6 linked regions of the Homo sapiens genome follow. Changing the gene in region 1 together with any one later gene gives a genetic interaction. Each region holds a gene or a part of one and is shown on either strand. Other genes may lie near its edges. The genes, in order: HRK, BMF, BCL2L12, BOK, BNIP3L and BNIP3.

What was found.
Region 2: changes in HRK (region 1) and BMF together harm fitness more than expected from each alone (negative genetic interaction), as found in Homo sapiens cells (one large-scale study listed by BioGRID).
Region 3: changes in HRK (region 1) and BCL2L12 together harm fitness more than expected from each alone (negative genetic interaction), as found in Homo sapiens cells (one large-scale study listed by BioGRID).
Region 4: changes in HRK (region 1) and BOK together harm fitness more than expected from each alone (negative genetic interaction), as found in Homo sapiens cells (one large-scale study listed by BioGRID).
Region 5: changes in HRK (region 1) and BNIP3L together harm fitness more than expected from each alone (negative genetic interaction), as found in Homo sapiens cells (one large-scale study listed by BioGRID).
Region 6: changes in HRK (region 1) and BNIP3 together harm fitness more than expected from each alone (negative genetic interaction), as found in Homo sapiens cells (one large-scale study listed by BioGRID).

What each region holds. Positions count from the first base shown.
Region 1 is NC_000012.12:116,875,532-116,879,031, reverse strand, and holds part of HRK (activator of apoptosis harakiri), read left to right. Parts: intron 1-487; exon of another isoform or gene 488-574; intron 575-2,231; exon of another isoform or gene 2,232-2,341; intron 2,342-3,500. UniProt on the Homo sapiens protein: Promotes apoptosis.
Region 2 is NC_000015.10:40,087,390-40,089,634, reverse strand, and holds the end of BMF (bcl-2-modifying factor), read left to right. Parts: 3' UTR 1-1,745; downstream 1,746-2,245. UniProt on the Homo sapiens protein: May play a role in apoptosis. Isoform 1 seems to be the main initiator.
Region 3 is NC_000019.10:49,668,933-49,671,674, reverse strand, and holds part of BCL2L12 (bcl-2-like protein 12), read right to left. Parts: coding exon 2,738-2,742; intron 2,652-2,737; coding exon 2,560-2,651; coding exon of another isoform or gene 2,511-2,559; intron 1,460-2,510; coding exon 1,187-1,459; intron 1-1,186.
Region 4 is NC_000002.12:241,557,249-241,561,544, forward strand, and holds the start of BOK (bcl-2-related ovarian killer protein), read left to right. Parts: upstream 1-1,496; 5' UTR 1,497-1,745; exon of another isoform or gene 1,746-1,895; intron 1,896-1,970; exon of another isoform or gene 1,971-2,206; 5' UTR 2,207-2,235; coding exon 2,236-2,455; intron 2,456-2,822; exon of another isoform or gene 2,823-3,016; intron 3,017-4,296.
Region 5 is NC_000008.11:26,396,554-26,400,053, forward strand, and holds part of BNIP3L (BCL2/adenovirus E1B 19 kDa protein-interacting protein 3-like), read left to right. Parts: intron 1-3,500.
Region 6 is NC_000010.11:131,971,924-131,975,423, reverse strand, and holds part of BNIP3 (BCL2/adenovirus E1B 19 kDa protein-interacting protein 3), read left to right. Parts: intron 1-1,480; coding exon 1,481-1,631; intron 1,632-2,305; coding exon 2,306-2,390; intron 2,391-3,500. UniProt on the Homo sapiens protein: Apoptosis-inducing protein that can overcome BCL2 suppression. May play a role in repartitioning calcium between the two major intracellular calcium stores in association with BCL2.

The sequences.
Region 1 (3,500 bases):
AGGCTGCGGGCGGGGCGGGCAGATTGCGCCGCTCTGCGCCGGAGCGCAGGGGAGGAGTTGGGTAACTGGGGCCTGCGCTGCAGGGGAGGGCGGCGGCCAGGAGTTTCGCTGTTTTGAGTCGGTGTTGGGGGGCAGCAGCAGGTTATTGTCTCTGTGGAGTTTATTTCCCCCGCCCCGCCCTCGCCTTCTACCCCAGAGTTACTTCCGTGCTGCGCCCTGACTCGGAGACACCCTCTTCCCACACCTCTGGGTTCTTCTCCTACCTGCCTTGTCCCGCCCGGGCGTCCCCTGCAGCCACACCCTCCAGGGTTCTGCAGCCTCTGGCGCCCTGACCTCAGGATGCCCCGCTCGGCTTCCCAGCAGCACCGCCCCTCATACCCTCGGGACACCCGTAGAATTGCTCACCACCCGCCTTCCTGCGCTCCCAGGCCGGGTTCTCAGTGCTCGGGCTCCCTGCACTGGCCCTGATCAAGTTCTCTCCCTGCAGCCTACATCTGACCTCAGAATACCAGCCGCTCCGGCCTTTCTTGTGCTTTTGATTTAATTTGGGGAAACTCATTTTTTCCCAGCTCTGGTAAGTTAAGTAAAGGGGAAAGAAAAATCACCGGAGGAAGACAGTCTGTTGCGTTCTATGCTGGATATGGGGTGCTCTCCACCTTCCCTACCCTAAAAGAAAAAGGGGAATGTTCACAGCTGTACCTTAGGTGTTTGAGGGAGGCCTGTGCCAGCCATATAGGGTGGGAACTACCACTTTCAATTCCCATAGGTTTAAAGGGTGTGCTCCGCTATATGCAGAATCAATATTTTCAACATACAGGCCAGGCAGGTTGGCTCACGCCTGTAATTCCAGCACTTTGGGAGGCCAAGGCAGGTGGATCACCTGAGGTCAGGAGTTTGAGACCAGCATGGCCAACATGGTGAAACCCCATCTCTACTAAAAATACAAAAATTAGCTGAGCGTGGTGGTGCACACCTGTAATCCCAGCTACTCGGGAGGCTGAGGCAGGAGAATCGCTTGAACCTGGGAGGCGGAGGTTACAGTCAGCCAAGAAGAGCTGAGATCACACCACTGCACTCCAGCCTGGGCGACAGAGCGAGACTCCATCTCAATAATAATTTAAAACATATATGTGTATATACACATACATATATCCAGCATACTTGTTTTGAGTCTCTACTGCGAACCAGCAATACTTTTCTCAGAAGTCATCCTTTAAAAAAATAACAAACAGAAACAAAAACCCAAGACTAAGTTTTCCCATATGTAAAATGGGGGCAAAAAATGGGGGCCCACCAGCCAGACTTAGTGCATAGGCACGTTATTAAGGGGGTTAAATGAATTCATACACGGAAAGCTCTAGAACAGTGGATATACATGTGAGCCATCATGATTATTATTGTGCATTTACTATCATTCTTTCCCAAGGTAGTCAACATTTTACCATTATTATTGCTGGCCATTCCACACCACTCCTACCTGCCCTCCCGGGAAGTCAGTGCCAGAAGGGTCAGGAGAGAATAATGGTTAAGAGACTCTTAAGTGTCCAGCCATTTGCTGACAGCGTGACCTTGAGAAAGAACCATTACCTCTGCACCTTTATCTGTAAACTGGAGCTGTATCCTTCCAGGGTTATTGGGAGAATGATAAGAGAACATTCATTTAAAGTGTCCAGTGCAGGCCGGGCCAGTGGTTCAGTCCTGTAATCCCAGTTCTTTGGGAGGCCAAGGTGGGCGGATCACTTGAGCCCAGGAGTTCAAGACCAGCCTGGGCAACATGGTGAAACCTTGTCTGTACCAAAAAAAAAAAAAAAAAATTAGCTGGGCATGGTGGTGTGCACCTGTAGTCTCAGGTACTCAGGAGGCTGAGGTGGGAGGATCACTTGAGTCCCAGAGGCAGAGGTTGCAGTAAGCTGAGATCGCACTATTGCACTCCAGCCTAGGCGACAAAGTGAGACTCTTGTCTCAAAAAAGTCCAGTGCAGTGTCTGTCTCTTAACTTCACTCAACAGAGGATGTCATGAAATGGTCAGTGTCATTCCTTTTAATTCAAAGGGGAAGCCGAGGCAGAGAGCATCCACCTAAGTGATCCCCAGTGGAACTGCAGCTTCTGTCTTTGAGGGCACACAGCGCCCCCCACCCCATGACTTGCGGGGGAAGAGGAGATAGGGGCAGTAAGCAGACCGGGTTGGTGCACAGTGAATTCCTGTACAAGTGAAATTCCCTTTCTTCCAGAGCCCCAGGGGAGGCTCCTCTGAGGCTGGGGAGGCCTGGAGGAGGATGGGTATGATTTAACCAGTCAATACTCAAAGATACAGGAGAGAGGGAACAAAAGACGCTTTATGGTGAGTGCTGGCTGGCGGAGGCGTGGGAGGGAGGGAGGGAGAAGCGTGCCTGGGGAGGGGGCAGGGAGGGAGAGAGAATGGAGCCGAGGAATCTGCCTGGGAGTCGGGGCCAGGGCTGGGTAGAATCCTGCCTTGGGAGCAGGGGAAGGGGAGAGAGGGGGACTCCGCAGGCCCATAAGGCGACGTGGTCAGTGGCAAGGAAGATAATGGGCCAGCGGGAGCCTGCTTTAATGAATTAATGACAGCCTGGCCCACCAGCCAGACATGCTAACTGGTTCTTGGCAGGTACTTTGGGGATTAAGTGGTTAAACCTGGAGGCGCATCCCGCAGGCCTCCCTCCCAGCTCGCAGCACCCCTGCCAGAATTACTTTTAGAGCTTGAAAGCTTGGCCTTCTGTTTGGCGAGGGAGCCCGAGGAGGACAGCTGTTGGGGAGGAACCCCCCGGGAAGGGGCCAGATGTGCAGAACCAGGCAGCCTTCCTGCCACATGGTCTCTGTCTGGAGTCATCCGCTCGCATAGTGAGAGGCCAGAGTACAAGTGACTGAGCTGTGGATGGAAAAGAGCCACACCCGGGGATAATTAAATATACCCCCAGATGTGGGCTGGCTGGATTTGGCAATCATAACTCTAGAGTTTTTGAAAAGTCAGCCTTTTAGACAGGCAGATAACGAGAGGTGGGGAGGGGGCTTCCGTTTCTTGGTAGTCCTCACTAGTGTCCCTGTGATAGGATTTCACGGGAATAGAAAGCTAACCCACAGTGTCCCTAGTCCCTGGCAACTTGCTTGTCTCATAGTAGGTGTACAATAACTATGTGCTGTGTTAAATGAATCAGAAACTATGCAACATCAGCCGGGTATGCTGGCTCACACCTGTAATCCCAGCATTTTGAGAGGCTGAGGCGGGTGGATCACTTGAGGTCAGGAGTTCGAGACCTGCCTGGCCAATGTGGTGAAACCCCATCTCCACTAAAAATACAAAAATTAGCCAGGCATGATGGTGTGTGCCTGTAGTCCCAGCTACTTGGGAGGCTGAGGCAGGAGAATTGCATGAACCCAGGAGGCGGAGGTTGCAGTGAGCCGAGATCGCGCCACTGTACTCTAGCCTGGGCGACAGAATGAGTGAGACTCTGTTACAAAAAAATAAAAAATAAAAAAAGAAA
Region 2 (2,245 bases), on another chromosome or scaffold:
ATTTAGATCTTGGTGCTGGGGCAAGGCCATCAGCTTCAGAGACCTTGCCAGGCCCAGGCTGGGTGCCCTGTGGCCTGAGAACTGAGCCCAGACTTTGACAAACCCACCTCAACATCAAGCCTGGGGCAGGTGGAAGGTGGTCTGACTGCACTGTCTCCATCTTATGCAAAGCCAGGAACTCACTCACTGTCTTAAGTGAGCCAGGGCAAAATTTACACCCCTCACGTTTCCCTCTCCCTTCTTCCCCACCAACAAAACCCAGGAGGTAGCTGGCAGAGTAGCTGTCAGGAAGGAGAAAGGTTCTTTCTGGCTGGTTGTTTTTAATTGGCTTAGTGATCTAAACTGGCCCCTTCCTCCTCTGCCTGGTGAGTTGGCCTAAACATTCCTCAAGTCTAGCCTCAGGAGACCTGCCCCTCCCCCCCGACCTCCACCCCCTCAGACTCCATCCCCCACCCCCAGGAGCCTGGCTGTCTCTAGCGAGGGGTGGAGAATCAGATTTAGAGGGAGGGAGAGTCTGACCTGGATCCTGACCTGTAACCAGCTGAAGACGGTGGAGGCTTTGTGGCTTGCTGAGGGTGGGGGTTGGGAGAGGGACTGGAAACCTTCCTCCTCGGGAAAGAAATGCCTGGGAGGAAGGGAAGCCTGATATTCAGGGTCAAAACAGCCCTTCTAATTCACAACCCCAAAGCAGGGGTTTCTAGAAGTTGGTCAACAGATCTGGTGAGGGAAGTCCCCAGGCCAGACGCTGGACTCCTGCAATGAGGGTGGAGGACTCAGCCTGGCCTCTGCCTGGCCTGTTTCAAAGTCTGGGCCACTGGCAGCCTTCTCTTGCTCAATCCGAGGTGGAAAAAGATCACCTCCCAGTGACCTCCCTCAGCCCCCAGGGGAGTAGGTCTGTGTCCAAAGCTATGTGGCAGGCTTGTTTGAAGGACCCAGAGGGGCCCAGCTGACCTGTCTCACTGCTCCTGGCAGCCCAGCCCCATCGGCAGGTGGCCCCTGCCTGGGGGTTATTCGGGATGGTTCAGCCAGGGCCTCCCAGGAAGAGTGCTGTGGAGCCACGGTGACTGTCCTGGACAGCAAGGAGCATGCTACCCCAGTGAGCACTTCTTTTTGAGGGACTTGATGGGGAGGTGGGGTAGGCAGAAGGGACGTGGCAGAAGCGGGAAGACTTTGGTCACCATGGCTCTGCAGGCCTTCTGCAAATCAGTGCTGGCCTGGGCTGGAAACAGCTCTGTGTGTGAAGGTGAGGACTCTTGGAAGCAGGCCATCCTGGCCAGACACCCTAGCAGGAAGGGGCTCACCTGTCACCCTTAGGCAGCCTGAGGGCTGGTGGGGACTTTTGAGTCTTGAGGGGATAGCGGAAAAAGCTGAGCTCATAGGTGCCCAGCCAGCCTCCCAGCTAAAGGTGCTCAGAGCCCCACTGCCCCCTCTCTCTGTGCAGGTGGCCAGTGCCCCTCCCTGCTCTGGGAGCATTGCTAGCCTTCTACCCCATCCCTGGATCCACAGGGGCTATCGAGGAGACCCAGTGAGAATGTAGCATTTTGTTCATCCCCAGGGTAGCTGCCCTGGGGTCTGGGCACTCTGCCTCTGGGAGAGAGGAAGAAGAAAGGGGCCCCATTTTTTAAAAAACTGTACAGAGCCTTTGGCTTTATGTGTTTATGTTCTTCACATGCATATGTGTGTATGTGTGTATATCTTTCCCCCCATCAATTGGTACAATTTTTAATAAAATCATTTAAAGCAAATCTGGTCTTTTATTTTTCAAGGTGTGGTAAAAATGCAAGGAGATCAGTTAGGAAATTAAAGCCTTCTAGCTTTCTCAGCTGCCAGCTTGAGTGACCTGAAGGCGCTCAGCTTTCGCCGTGATTTCCTTTCCCCTCTTGGAGTTGAGAAGAGTGATTCCGACCACCACGCGATAGGCAGCACAGCAGAGGCCCTGTGAGGGGGAAAGATGCAGGTTTTGGACCCGGTTCCCTCCTCCTCCAGCTGAATGATCTTGGGCAAGTTATGTCACCTCTCTGAGCCTTCAGTTCTTCCACGTGTGAAATACGACTGTGCCGGCCTTGCAGGATTAAAGGGAATGTGTCAAAAGGGCCTGTCTGCCACTGGGACCCAGTGAGGGAAAGGACCCCGGCAGCCCCTCCCGCACACACTACCCCACCCCTCCTTTCTATCAGGGTAGCCCCTCAGGAGGCAAGCTAGTTGTAGGGGGACTTCCTGGCTTGCATTTCTTTGTGGATTAACA
Region 3 (2,742 bases), on another chromosome or scaffold:
TTGAGGTAGCACTACTACTCTCACTATTTTATTTTTTGAGACAGGGTCCCACTCTGTCACCCACACTGGAGTACAGTGGCGCAATCATAGCTCACCACAGCCTTGAACTCCTGGGCTCAAGTGATCCTCCCGGCTCCTCTGCCTCCTGAGTAGCTGGGAGTAAACGTGTGAGCTACCATGCTTTGCTAATTATTATTAATTTTAAAAATTTTTATTTATTTATTTTTTGAGACAGAGCCCCGCTCTTGTTGCCCAGGCTGGAGTGCAGTGGTGCAATCTCGGCTCACTACAACCTCTGCCTCCCAGGTTCAAGCAATTCTCTTGCCTCAGCCTCCCTAGCTGGGATTACAGGCATGCCGGGCTAATTTTGTATTTTTAGTAGAGACTGAATGTCACCATGGTCAGGCTGGTCTCAAACTCCTGACCTCAAGTGATCCACCCACCTCAGTCTCCCAAAGTGCTGGGATTACAGGTGTGAGCCACCGCACCAGGTTTTTATTATATTATTTTGTTGAGACACAGTCTCACTCTGTCGCCCAGGCTGGAGTGCAGTGGCATGATCTCAGCTCACTGCAATCTCTGCCTCCCAGGTTCAAGCGATTCTCATGCCTCAGTCTCCTCGGTAGCTGGGATTACAGGCACCTGCCACCGCGCCCGGCTAATTTATGTATTTTTTTTAGTAGACACAGGGTTTCACCACGTTGGCCAGCTGGTCTCAAACTCCTGACCTCAGGTGATCCACCTGCCTCGGCCTCCCAAAGTGCTGGGATTACAGGTGTGAGCCACCGCACCCGACCCTGGCTAGTTATTTTCAATTTTTGTAGAGATGGGGTCTTACTATGTTGTCCAGGCTGGTCTTGAACTCCTGGCCTCAAATAATTCTCCTGCCTTGGCCTCCAAAAGTGCTGGGATTACAGGCATGAGCTACCCCGTCCGGCCTCTCCCTGAGTAACCTCAGTCACTGGTTTCACGCTCACAGTATTAGCGTACCCAGTCGTTGACGCCAGGCATAGTGTCTGCACTCATCGCTGCAGTCCTGGCATACAGCAAGGGCTCAACAGAACGAACGCAGTGGAGCTGGGAGAATACCTGAGGTCTGAGAGGAACCTAAGAAGTCCCCGCCCCTCCTCTATCACATGACAGTTAGGTAAAGTGAGGCCCGGAGAGAGAGGCTTCAGCGGCTCACCCAGCCCCCGTGGGCCTGGATCCAGGGCGTGAAGCTGTGCACGTGCTCCACGCTGAGTCCGGCCAGGGTGCCCCCCAGCCCGGCCACGCGCCGGCTCAGCTCCATGGCTAGGGCCAGGCGGGCCAGGGGCTCCGGGGAAGGAGGCGGGGGCCCGGGGCATGCTCGGCTTGGGCGAGAGCTGTCATCCCGGCTACAGAACAGCTCCACCAGGCGGGCGAAAGAGTCGGAGGACAGGCGGACCAGCTTGCTGCGCAGGGCGGGGTCCGAGGCCAGCTGTAGGGTGGAAGAGGCAGGGTCCGCGTCAGCAGCGCCCCCGGGGCCAGCCAATAGAGGGCCGGGAGGCGTGGCTTCCCGGTTCAGGATCGTTCTAGATGCTAAGGTTCTAGGCCACCCCTCATCCATATTAGCCAATCAAGCCAGACTCCAGGGTCTCTGCCAAACTACCCCCGGGATAGTGGCCTGGAACGTGAGTCCCTAAGCCATGCCAGGCCCTTGCCTCAACAGCCAATCAGGGCCAATCTCTACTGTAACTGAGTTAATCTAGCCATGCCCCTGGTGACCTTTCCCAGGGGCCAACCTAGTGTCTACAACAATCTTGCCCTCTACCATTCAATTAATATTAAAGGACGATGTACCTTGTCCAAGCTCCGAAGCCAATCAGATTCCAGGACACAGCCACAAGCCACACCTCCTCTGGTAGTACATTTTCCCCTACATTCTAAGCCAGGTCCCTTCTATGCTCAGTAAGATTTTAGCCACTCCCCCCACCCCCACATTCATTCACTTACTTCCCCAGCTTGGCCAGTCTCTTGTGGATAATGTTTCTGATGGCCACACCCTCTGCATTTAGGCCATGCCCCTCTAAACAATCAATTAAAACAACTAATTTACGGTACAGTACTACCCTAACCATACCCCTGTCATTCAACTATTCTTTTTTTTTTTTTTTTTTAAAGACAGAGTCTCACTCTGTCACCCAGGCTGGAGTGCAGTGGCGCAATCTTGGCTCACTGCAACCTCCACCTCCTGGGCTCAAGCGATTCTCCTGCCTCAGCCTTCTGAGTAGCTGGGATTACAGAAGCGCACCACCACACCTGTCCGATTTTTGTATTTTTAGTAGAGATGGGGTTTCACCATGTTGGCCAGGCTGGTCTCGAACTCCTGACCTCAAGTCATCCACCCAACTCGGCCTCCCAAAGTGCTGGGATTACAGGCGTGAGCCACCACACCCGGCCTCAACCCTTCATTGAAACCTTGTCCCAGCCTCTTTCCACCTGACCATCCAAAGAAAATACAGATCCAGCTTCTGATCCCAGTGCCCCACCATTCCGCAACTCCTGTCCTTGCCAAGGAGTGGGACAGATGCCCATCACCTTCTGGTTAATGACTTCTGCCTCCTCCTCCAGCAGGGCCACCAGCCTCCGCAGTATGGCTTCCTTCTCTGTCGATGGGGGACCCTGTAATTCTGGAGGCAGAAGAGAATTTGGCTGGGGGCAGAACCCTGACTATCCTCCCACCGCCATCCTTCTCTGGGGCTCCTCTGTGCCTCACCTGGG
Region 4 (4,296 bases), on another chromosome or scaffold:
TTGTTCTTTTCTAGCTTCTTGAGTGGAAGCTTAGAGCAGTAATTTTATTTTTCTTTTTCCTTTTTTTTTTTTTTTTTTGAGATGGAATCACACTCTGTTGTCCAGGCTGGAGTGCAGGTGGGATGATCTCTGCTCACTGCAACCTTCGCCTCCCAGGTTCAAGCAATTCTCCTGCCTCAGCCTCCTTAGTAGCTGGGATTACAGACACCTGCCACCACACCCAACTCATTTTTTGTATCTCTAGTAGAGACGGGGTTTTCACCATTTTGACCCGGCTGGTCTCAAACTCCTGAGCTCAGGTGATCTGCCCACCTAGGCCTCCCAAAATGCTGGGATTACAGGTCTGAGTCATTTCACCTGGCCTAATTTTCAATCCTTCTTCTAAAGCTATCAAATTTCCTCTAAGCAGTGTTTTAGTTGCACTGTACAGCATTTGATATGTCTTATTTTTCACTGTTCTTGTCAACATATTTTAATCTTCCACTGTGATTATTGACCCATTGATTATTTAGAAGTGTGACATGTAATTTCCAAGCATTTGCAGATTTTCCAGTAATTTTTCTGTTATTGACTTTTAATTCAGAGAGGACACACTGTAAGATTTCAATCCGTTGAGATTTGCTGAGACTTGTATAAGGTCCATGATATGGTCTATTTCGATAAACATCCTATGTGCACATGGGAAGAATAAGTATTTTATAGTGTTGTACACACGTGAATTAGGCCAAGTTGGTTAATCCTATTGTTCAAACTGTGTGAGGTTGATTCAAGGATAAAGAAATAAACCAGTGGGATAGAGTTCCGAGACACACACACACACACACACACACTCTTCAGCTGATTTATGTTGAGATGTTGGGGACTCCTCCAATTCGGTGGAAAAAAAATGATGCTTTTCAATAAATGATGCCAGGTCAATTGGATATCTACACGAAAAAAAATGAGCTCTAGCCCCGTACCACACCATTCACAATAATTAATATGTAATCAATCATAGATCTAAATATGAGCCCTAAAACAAGCTTCTAAAAGGAAATACAGGAGGATATCCCAATAAAAAGGTACTAACCATAAAGAAAATATTGATAAATTGGACATCACTAAGAGTAACTCCTGTTCATCCAAAGCAAAAGTAAACCACAAAATAGAGGAAGATATTTGCAATAACTTCAATAAATGCGAATCCAATAATCCATCTACAATACAAAGGGCATGCGTCCGGACCAAGAACACGTCTCCAGACTCTGGAAAGAACCTCTACGAACGAAGAAGACAACCCAATTTTCAAATGGACCCCGGGGAACACCCAGGCGGCTGGGGCTGGCTCTAGGTCCCCACTGCTCTGCCTTGCGGGGGCCGCTCCGGCCTGGTCGCCTTCTCCGGGCGCATCCAGGGAACTCGCTCGGTCCTCCTTAAGCGGGGAAGCTCGGAAAGCGTCTCCCCGACTCCGCCCCCAGGGTTGCCTTTCCCTTAGAAGGCCAAGCCCCAAGCCCAGCCTCTCGCCAGCTGGGAGTCGCGCGCTGCCCACCTCGCTGCCCAGGCCCCCGACGCCGCGGCAGGAGCCCCCCAAGAGCGCGGGAAGCCCCGTGGACCTGGCGCTCCCGGCTCGGGCGTGGACGGGGCGGGCGCCGGGGCGGGGCGCGCGTCCTCGCGGGTCTGAATGGAAGGGTCGAGGTCGTCGTCGGCGGCGAGCAGATCCTGAAGCCAGAACTCCACCCCGGCGCCCGCGCCATGCGGCGGGAGAGGTGAGCGCGGCGGGCGTGGCGTCCGTGCCGGGGTGCCCGGGGTGCCACGGGAACGGCGAGGCCGGGGACACGCGCGCAGGACGCCAGCGGCGGAGGTGGGCGGCCCCGGGCCGGGGCGGGGAGGGCCGGGTCCTGGCAGTCGCCGTGGGGGACGCGCTGGGCTGTGCCCTCCGCCCCCGCCGCCCACGCACTCGTCTTCGAGGGCGGGCCCGGCGGCCCCGGAGCAAACCGCCGTCTCCCCGCGGCCCCACCGGTCCCTGGCAGCCTCGGGGAATGTCTGTAGCTGAATTCGGGCTCTGAAAGAAGGTGGCGCTGGGTTTTTAAAGATTTGGGGCACAAAAAACGAGAGCGGACCCGGCGCCGGCTACGGCCCTTCCCGAGGGCCACGCCCAGCCCGGCGCCCCGCGCGCCCCGTTCCCCGCGCCGCCTCCCTCCACCCGGCTGAGCGCTTGTGCCCGCAGGTGCGGCGCCCCCCACCCGCGTCGCCGCCATGGAGGTGCTGCGGCGCTCCTCGGTCTTCGCCGCCGAGATCATGGACGCCTTTGACCGCTCGCCCACAGACAAGGAGCTGGTGGCCCAGGCCAAGGCGCTGGGCCGGGAGTACGTGCACGCGCGGCTGCTGCGCGCCGGCCTCTCCTGGAGCGCGCCCGAGCGTGCCGCGCCGGTCCCGGGACGCCTGGCTGAGGTGTGCGCGGTGCTGCTGCGCCTGGGTGAGTGCGCCCTGGTGGGATCCCCAGCTGCGCCTCCTCCCCTGCTGGGCCGCAGCCTCCCTCCGAGGCCGAGATGGGGGTCCGGCCCAGGGGCGCCCACCCCCTGCCTGGGACGGCCAGGCGCTCGGGACAGGGCCACCCAGGCGGGTGCTCCCGGATCTGCCCTCTCAGGCCTCCCACGCCACAGGCCCCCCCATCAGCTGCCTGCTCAGCCCAGATTTCAGTCATGCTGGCCATAAACAATAGAAAGCTCCAGAAAGAATAATCTATTAGTGGGTGGCTAAGCTTCCACAGTGACCCTTGTTCTCAGCTGGGCACAGAAACCCTTTGTAGGAGCACGTGTCCCGATGTTTATTTTGGAAAACAGATTCTTGCTGTTACTGGCCGAGATCCCGCCCGCTGCCCTCTGGATTCCGAGGCCTCCGAGGCCCCCCCATTGGAAACTGCGCCCACCGGGCTGGGTAGCCAAAACCTCAGTATTCGTTGGTGCTGTGAGGACATCTGGGGGTGCTCGGTTCTGGGGTCACACACGGTCCACTGGCTGCCCCCACCGTCTCCAAGGTCTGGACCCAAGAGGGAGGGACCAGCCCCACTGTGACTGTCCAGTCCCCTCACCACAGCTGGGCTGTGGCCGTCACCTGGGAATGTTTATGTGATGCCCGAAGAGGGCACATGGGGCGCCTGTGGCTGAGCCCGGGAAGGGGAGGTGACAGCATAGGTGAAACTGAATCGGTGGCTCTCCAGGCAGGGGGTTGGAGTCGGAGGGCACGACCCCGTGAGGGGACACGCTGCCTCCTCTCAGGCTGGCGCTGGCATGGGCTCTAGGTGGCCCCTGCCCTTACGTGGTGGGCTGGGCCCAGAGAGCAAAGCTGTGTAGACCTGGCCTGCCCAGGAGTGTGTGTGGGGTGCAGACAGAATCCATGGGGACCAGCACAGAGCCTCCAGGAGGAGGTGGAGTCCCATCTGAGAAGTTCAGAAGGAGGGAGAGGTCTCTGGGTGGGAGCTAGGGGGTTGGTGGGGCTCCATGAGATCCGCCGCCTGCTGCTGCCTCTAGTCGGGCTCTGAGAATGACCCTAGGGGATCCTTTTAGTGGCCTTCTGAAAAGATGATGCCAGACCCCTGGAATGGCTGGGAAGAAGTCCCAGATGTCTAGGGGGACCCCAGAGGGACACAGCTCAGACCTGCATCTGCCCTCACGGCTGCTCAGGGTCAGTCCCTTGAGGCCAGCGCTGTCTCCCTGCCCTTGGGCAGTGCAGACAGGAAGAAGCCCGGGTTGTGTCCCCACCTTCAGTCTGGGGCCAGCCTGCAGCAGCCCCGGAGATCTGTGTTTGGGAGCTGCCGGGTCAGTCCTGGGAATTTCCATGTCGTCCCCCGCCCCCAGCCAGCCTCTCATGGGCTCTGCTCTGCTTCCAGATCTTAATTAATGAGATACAGAGCAGCCTTTATCAGCTGGGATGGTCCGGTCAGCAGCATTACCCTGTTTGCTTTGGCTGGAGAACTGGCCGGGCTGCGGACTCCCAATCCCAGGGCCCTGTGGCATTCTCGGCACCATCTGCCCCGTGCCTGTGCGCTGCTGCTGCCAAGGGTGCCACAGGCAGCACTGGGGCGGTGGGCCTGTAGGGGCCATCCTCGGCTGCCAGGGGCAGGGCTGATGCAGTGCCACCTCCAAGCACATCCCCTTGGCAGCAAGAGCCCAGGTGGGAGCGTGGCAGTGAGGGTGGCCCAGGACAGCGGCCCAGCCAGCCCAGGTGGGAGCGTGGCAGTGCGGGTGGCCCAGGACAGGGGCCCAGCCAGCCCAGGTGGGAGCGTGGCAGTGCGGGTGGCCCAGGACAGCGGCCCAG
Region 5 (3,500 bases), on another chromosome or scaffold:
AAACACAGAGCGCCTCTCCTCCTCCAAAGGAACGCAGTTCCTCACCAGCAACGGAACAAAGCTGGATGGAGAATGATTTTGACGAGCTGAGAGAAGAAGGCTTCAGACGATCAAATTAGAGTGAGCTACGGGAGGACATTCAAACCAAAGGCAAAGAAGTTGAAAACTGAAAAAAATTTAGAAGAATGTATAACTAGAATAACCAATACAGAGAAGTGCTTAAAGGAGCTGATGGAGCTGAAAACCAAGGCTCGAGAACTACGTGAAGAATGCAGAAGCCTCAGGAGCCGATGCGATCAACTGGAAGAAAGGGTATCAGCAATGGAAGATGAAATGAATGAAATGAAGCAAGAAGGGAAGTTTAGAGAAAAAAGAATAAAAAGAAATGAGCAAAGCCTCCAAGAAATATGGGACTATGTGAAAAGACCAAATCTACGTCTGATTGGTGTACCTGAAAGTGATGCGGAGAATGGAACCAAGTTGGAAAACACTCTGCAGGATATTATCCAGGAGAACTTCCCCAATCTAGCAAGGCAGGCCAACGTTCAGATTCAGGAAATACAGAGAACGCCACAAAGATACTCCTCGAGAAGAGCAACTCCAAGACACATAATTGTCAGATTCACCAAAGTTGAAATGAAGGAAAAAATGTTAAGGGCAGCCAGAGAGAAAGGTCGGGTTACCCTCAAAGGGAAGCCCATCAGACTAACAGCGGATCTCTTGGCAGAAACCCTACAAGCCAGAAGAGAGTGGGGGCCAATATTCAACATTCTTAAAGAAAAGAATTTTCAACCCAGAATTTCATATCCAGCCAAACTAAGCTTCATAAGTGAAGGAGAAATAAAATACTTTACAGACAAGCAAATGCTGACCGATTTTGTCACCACCAGGCCTGCCCTAAAAGAGCTCCTGAAGGAAGCGCTAAACATGGAAAGGAACAACCGGTACCAGCTGCTGCAAAATCATGCCAAAATGTAAAGACCATCGAGACTAGGAAGAAACTGCATCAACTAACGAGCAAAATCACCAGCTAACATCATAATGACAGGATCAAATTCACACATAACAATATTAACTTTAAATGTAAGTGGACTAAATTCTGCAATTAAAAGACACAGACTGGCAAATTGGATAAAGAGTCAAGACCCATCAGTGTGCTGTATTCAGGAAACCCATCTCACGTGCAGAGACACACATAGGCTCAAAATAAAAGGATGGAGGAAGATCTACCAAGCAAATGGAAAACAAAAAAAGGCAGGGGTTGCAATCCTAGTCTCTGATAAAACAGACTTTAAACCAACAAAGATCAAAAGAGACAAAGAAGGCCATTACATAATGGTAAAGGGATCAATTCAACAAGAGGAGCTAACTATCCTAAATATATATGCACCCAATACAGGAGCACCCAGATTCATAAAGCAAGTCCTGAGTGACCTACAAAGAGACTTAGACTCCCACACATTAATAATGGGAGACTTTAACACCCCACTGTCAATATTAGACAGATCAACAAGACAGAAAGTCAACAAGGATACCCAGGAATTGAACTCAGCTCTGCACCAAGCAGACCTAATAGACGTCTACAGAACTCTCCACCCCAAATCAACAGAATATACATTTTTTTCAGCACCACACCACACCTATTCCAAAATTGACCACATAGTTGGAAGTAAAGCTCTCCTCAGCAAATGTAAAAGAACAGAAATTATAACAAACTATCTCTCAGACCACAGTGCAATCAAACTAGAACTCAGGATTAAGAATCTCACTCAAAGCCGCTCAACTACATGGAAACTGAACAACCTGCTCCTGAATGACTACTGGGTACATAACGAAATGAAGGCAGAAATAAAGATGTTCTTTGAAACCAACGAGAACAAAGACACAACATACCAGAATCTCTGGGACGCATTCAAAGCAGTGTGTAGAGGGAAATTTATAGCACTAAATGCCCACAAGAGAAAGCAGGAAAGATCCAAAATTGACACCCTAGCATCACAATTAAAAGAACTAGAAAAGCAAGAGCAAACACATTCAAAAGCTAGCAGAAGGCAAGAAATAACTAAAATCAGAGCAGAACTGAAGGAAATAGAGACACAAAAAACCCTTCAAAAAATCAATGAATCCAGGAGCTGGTTTTTTGAAAGGATCAACAAAATTGATAGACCGCTAGCAAGACTAATAAAGAAAAAAAGAGAGAAGAATCAAATAGACAAAAAATGATACTACAAACACCTCTACGCAAATAAACTAGAAAATCTGGAAGAAATGGATACATTCCTCGACACATACACTCTCCCAAGACTAAACCAGGAAGAAGTTGAATCTCTGAATAGACCAATAACAGGAGCTGAAATTGTGGCAATAATCAATAGTTTACCAACCAAGAAGAGTCCAGGACCAGATGGATTCACAGCCGAATTCTACCAGAGGTACAAGGAGGAACTGGTACCATTCCTTCTGAAACTATTCCAATCAATAGAAAAAGAGGGAATCCTCTGTAACTCATTTTATGAGGCCAGCATCATTCTGATACCAAAGCCGGGCAGAGACACAACCAAAAAAGAGAATTTTAGACCAATATCCTTGATGAACATTGATGCAAAAATCCTCAATAAAATACTGGCAAACCGAATCCAGCAGCACATCAAAAAGCTTATCCACCATGATCAAGTGGGCTTCATCCCTGGGATGCAAGGCTGGTTCAATATACACAAATCAATAAATGTAATCCAGCATATAAACAGAGCCAAAGACAAAAACCACATGATTATCTCAATAGATGCAGAAAAAGCCTTTGACAAAATTCAACAACCCTTCATGCTAAAAACTCTCAATAAATTAGGTATTGATGGGACGTATTTCAAAATAATAAGAGCTATCTATGACAAACCCACAGCCAATATCATACTGAATGGGCAAAAACTGGAAGCATTCCCTTTGAAAACTGGCACAAGACAGGGATGCCCTCTCTCACCGCTCCTATTCAACATAGTGTTGGAAGTTCTGGCCAGGGCAATCAGGCAGGAGAAGGAAATAAAGGGTATTCAATTAGGAAAAGAGGAAGTCAAATTGTCCCTGTTTGCAGATGACATGATTGTTTATCTAGAAAACCCCATTTTCTCAGCCCAAAATCTCCTTAAGCTGATAAGCAACTTCAGCAAAGTCTCAGGATACAAAATCAATGTACAAAAATCACAAGCATTCCTATACACCAACAAGAGACAAACAGCCAAATCATGAGTGAACTCCCATTCACAATTGCTTCAAAGAGAATAAAATACCTAGGAATCCAACTTACAAGGGATGTGAAGGACCTCTTCAAGGAGAACTACAAACCACTGCTCAAGGAAATAAAAGAGGATACAAAGAAATGGAAGAACATTCCATGCTCATGGGTAGGAAGAATCAATATCGTGAAAATGGCCATACTGCCCAAGATAATTTACAGATTCAGTGCCATCCCCATCAAGCTACCAATGACTTTCTTCACAGAATTG
Region 6 (3,500 bases), on another chromosome or scaffold:
ATAAGTTTCCCTGTCTTTTGTGGCCTGCACTTTCCTCCCACTGCACTCCATCCTCCATACGCTACCAGAGGAAGCTCCTACCAGATTTGCTTTAAATAAATAAACCTATGACACAAAGTAGAGAGATTATCTGGGGCCCAGAAATAGACGTGTGCCTATATGCACGCTTGATTTCTGACACAGGAAGCAGCCAGCGCAGAGTGAGGCGGGAGCTGTCTGCAGTAAATGGGGCATCCGTCTCACATCAATGGGAAAATTAATCCATGTAGATTTTGGATCTAAATGTGACTGTCATAACAGTAGAGCTGTGTGAAAATAATAGAATAGAATATCTCAGCTCAGGAAGGGATTGCTGCATTTGACTGAATTAAAATCAAGAACTTCTGTACATCAGAAGACATCAGAAGTGAAAAGAACAAGCTACCGAGGGAAAGTTACTTGCAACATATTTAAATGCAGAAAAACATATATCTAGAATACAGAATTATCCCAGAATTGCACTTTTAGCAGTAAGGGAACGGGAGCAGCGTTCCAGCCTCAGTTTCTATTTATAATGGTGACATGGAAAAAATACTGCTGGATGCCCACAAATAAGAGAAAGACAGATAATAGAAAAGAATAAGAGATTCGAAGAACCAGTTCAAAAAAGATGCTATCCAGATGGCTAGCAAACTTGTAAAACCGTCTTCAACCTCGTTAGAAATTATATAAATGCAAAGTAAGCCACACGATGCAAGTCATAGAGGCTGGGCATGGTGGCTCACGCCTGTAATCCCAGCACACTGGGAAGCTGAGGTGAGAGGACTGCTTGGGCCCAGAAGTTCGAGACTAGCCTGGGCAATATAGCGAGACCCCATCTCCTAAAAAAAATAGCCAGGAGTAGTGGTGCATGCCTGTAGTTCCAGTTATTCCGGAGGTGTCAGCTAGAGGATGGCCTGAACCCAGGAGTTTGAGATTATAGTGAGCCTTCATCGTGCCACTGCACCCCAGCCTGGGTGACAAAGCGAGACTCCGTCTCGAAAAGAAACAAAAAATAGAGCTTAAACCTTTTAAAGAAAACTTCAAATCCCTTAAGCTTATGTTGACATTAGTGTTGTTGTTGTTTTTTTTAAAGACCTCTTTTTCCAAATAATAGCCTTTTTCTTATAAAAGCTCACTGCAAGGAAGTATTCTAATTGGATTCTGTTGACTCAGCAGAGTTATTGGACATTGGCTTGGTATAAAGGGACTGCAAGAGCTGGACAGATACATGGTCTCAGCCCCAGGGGGCTTCCTTCCTGTACCCAGGGAGTGTGTGCGTGGACAGTCACTGCCATGAGAGTGGGCAGAGGGATGTCTTCAAGTCGGGGTTGAGGGATGGTTCCTGGTGTGGCACCATTGCTACCTCTTGGAAATGGAAGGGCAGGCTGGTTAGATATCAAGAGCAGATTCCAGAGTGGGTAGAGAATTCCATCTGCGCCCCTTTTTTTGTCCCCATCAGGCTCCTGGGTAGAACTGCACTTCAGCAATAATGGGAACGGGGGCAGCGTTCCAGCCTCGGTTTCTATTTATAATGGAGACATGGAAAAAATACTGCTGGACGCACAGCATGAGTCTGGACGGAGTAGCTCCAAGAGCTCTCACTGTGACAGGTAGGCGCGCATCAACAAGTGTATGTGTTACAGTGCCGATGTCTTCAGTGGGTGACAGTCACAGCTGGAAGTGCCCGTGTCACCTCTAGGACAGTGGGCTGCTGTTCGCCTCGGGCCGCGTTCTGGACTGGCTCCTGCTGCAGTCCGTCCTTATATAGGAGCCTCGCCCTCTTTGGGGATGCAGTGACCTGGGACTTAGTCTGTGGGGAGCCATGTTCAAGTCATCAGTAGGCAGCGGAACAGCCACAAACCCCACTCTGAGAAACGCACTCACGCGCCTCAGCGGGGCTGTGGTCGCAGGAGGAGCGGTCCCTGGTTAGCAGTACTTCTGAGTGACTCCAAGGTAGAGTGGCCGACAGTGGTCAAAGGTCGCGTGCCCTTGAGAGCTGTGCAACAGACCCAGACCGTGAAGGCGGCAGGTGACAAAGCCAGCTGCTTGCCAGTTGCCCCTGCGTCTTCTCTGGAAGACTGGCTAGCTCACTCCTGTCGTGCTCAGCCAAAAGGGCTGAGGAAGAGTTTGGCTCTGGCAGGTGCTGGGTGGAAGGGAAGACGCGTACGCTGACTGGCTAGAGCCCCTCATCACGGAGGCGGTTCACTGCCTTTGGGGTTTGAGCTTCTAATGATAGAATGTTCACATGATGTTCTGTTTTTCCCATTCTATTCACATCGCCAAGCCCACCTCGCTCGCAGACACCACAAGATACCAACAGAGCTTCTGAAACAGATACCCATAGCATTGGAGAGAAAAACAGCTCACAGGTAAGCTGGAAGGAGAATGTGCAGTTGTAAAAGTATTTGTGATCTGTTTGTACAGGAAACGGTTTTAAATGTAATTGAGCACCTCAGAGAAAAGTCGGGCTTTAAGGGTGTTTCCTGCTTTAAAAAAAACAAAAAAGCGAAACAAAAAAACCAAGAAACTGTGGGTGGGAACATCCACAAGCACATGGGCTGGACACTCAGCTGAGCGGGGGAGGCGCCGAGTGGGACAGGCAGCGGGGGCCTCCTGTCCCTCCCTGCCTGCCATCAGGGATACACCGGAAAGGAGGAAGGGCTCCCTGGTGGCTGCAGCCTAGAGAGGAGGGAGGGACCATTGGAAGGGGTGGCAGTGAGCCAGCTACTGGCTGGTCTTTCCTCGTGGTTGCTGGTTGGACAGTGAGTGGGTTTTAATATTTGCATGCTGTGTGGGACTCAGGAGTTACCCACGGGGCCATCTAAGGCCATGTGGCCACTGTGGCTGTGACTCTGAGGTGTCTTCCTCATTAGACACTCACTACCTGCCGGAAATTACACCCTGTGCCTTTCCTAGCATTAGTCCTGAGCTAACTGGTGCCGGAGCAGTGTAGCATTAGCGGCTGATCAGCCTGATAATTTAGTGTAAGATCACTTTTTCTTCTTTTTTAAAAAAGTTTTTTTTGTAGAGACGGGGTCTCCCTGTGTTGCCCAGGGTGGTCTTGAACTCCAGGGCTCAAGTGATCCTCCCAAAATACTGGGACTATAGGTGTGAGATACTGTGTCCAGCCTAAGATGACTTTTCTGTTAACAGCTATTGAATGGGCTTTACAGAGCGGCCTTCAGCATTGTTGTGAAAGCGGAGTGAGTCTTAGAGGAAAAAGTGTACCTGGGGTTATTGCCTTGGTGTACTATCGTTCTCCCTTCCTACTCCGGCACAGATAGGGTTCGAGGCAGTGATCAGTACTGTCTTGCTCAGTTATATCTGGCAGTGCCTTACCTTGCTGCAGATGAGATGCGCGATGTGTTTTCTTGGGTGTTCGTTGCTGGTGAGAACTTTGACGACGGACTGTGTTCTGTATTTTGGAAGCTCTGTGAGGAAGCATGGCCTTCCAGGCAGGGTTAGTAGCTGACCCTTCC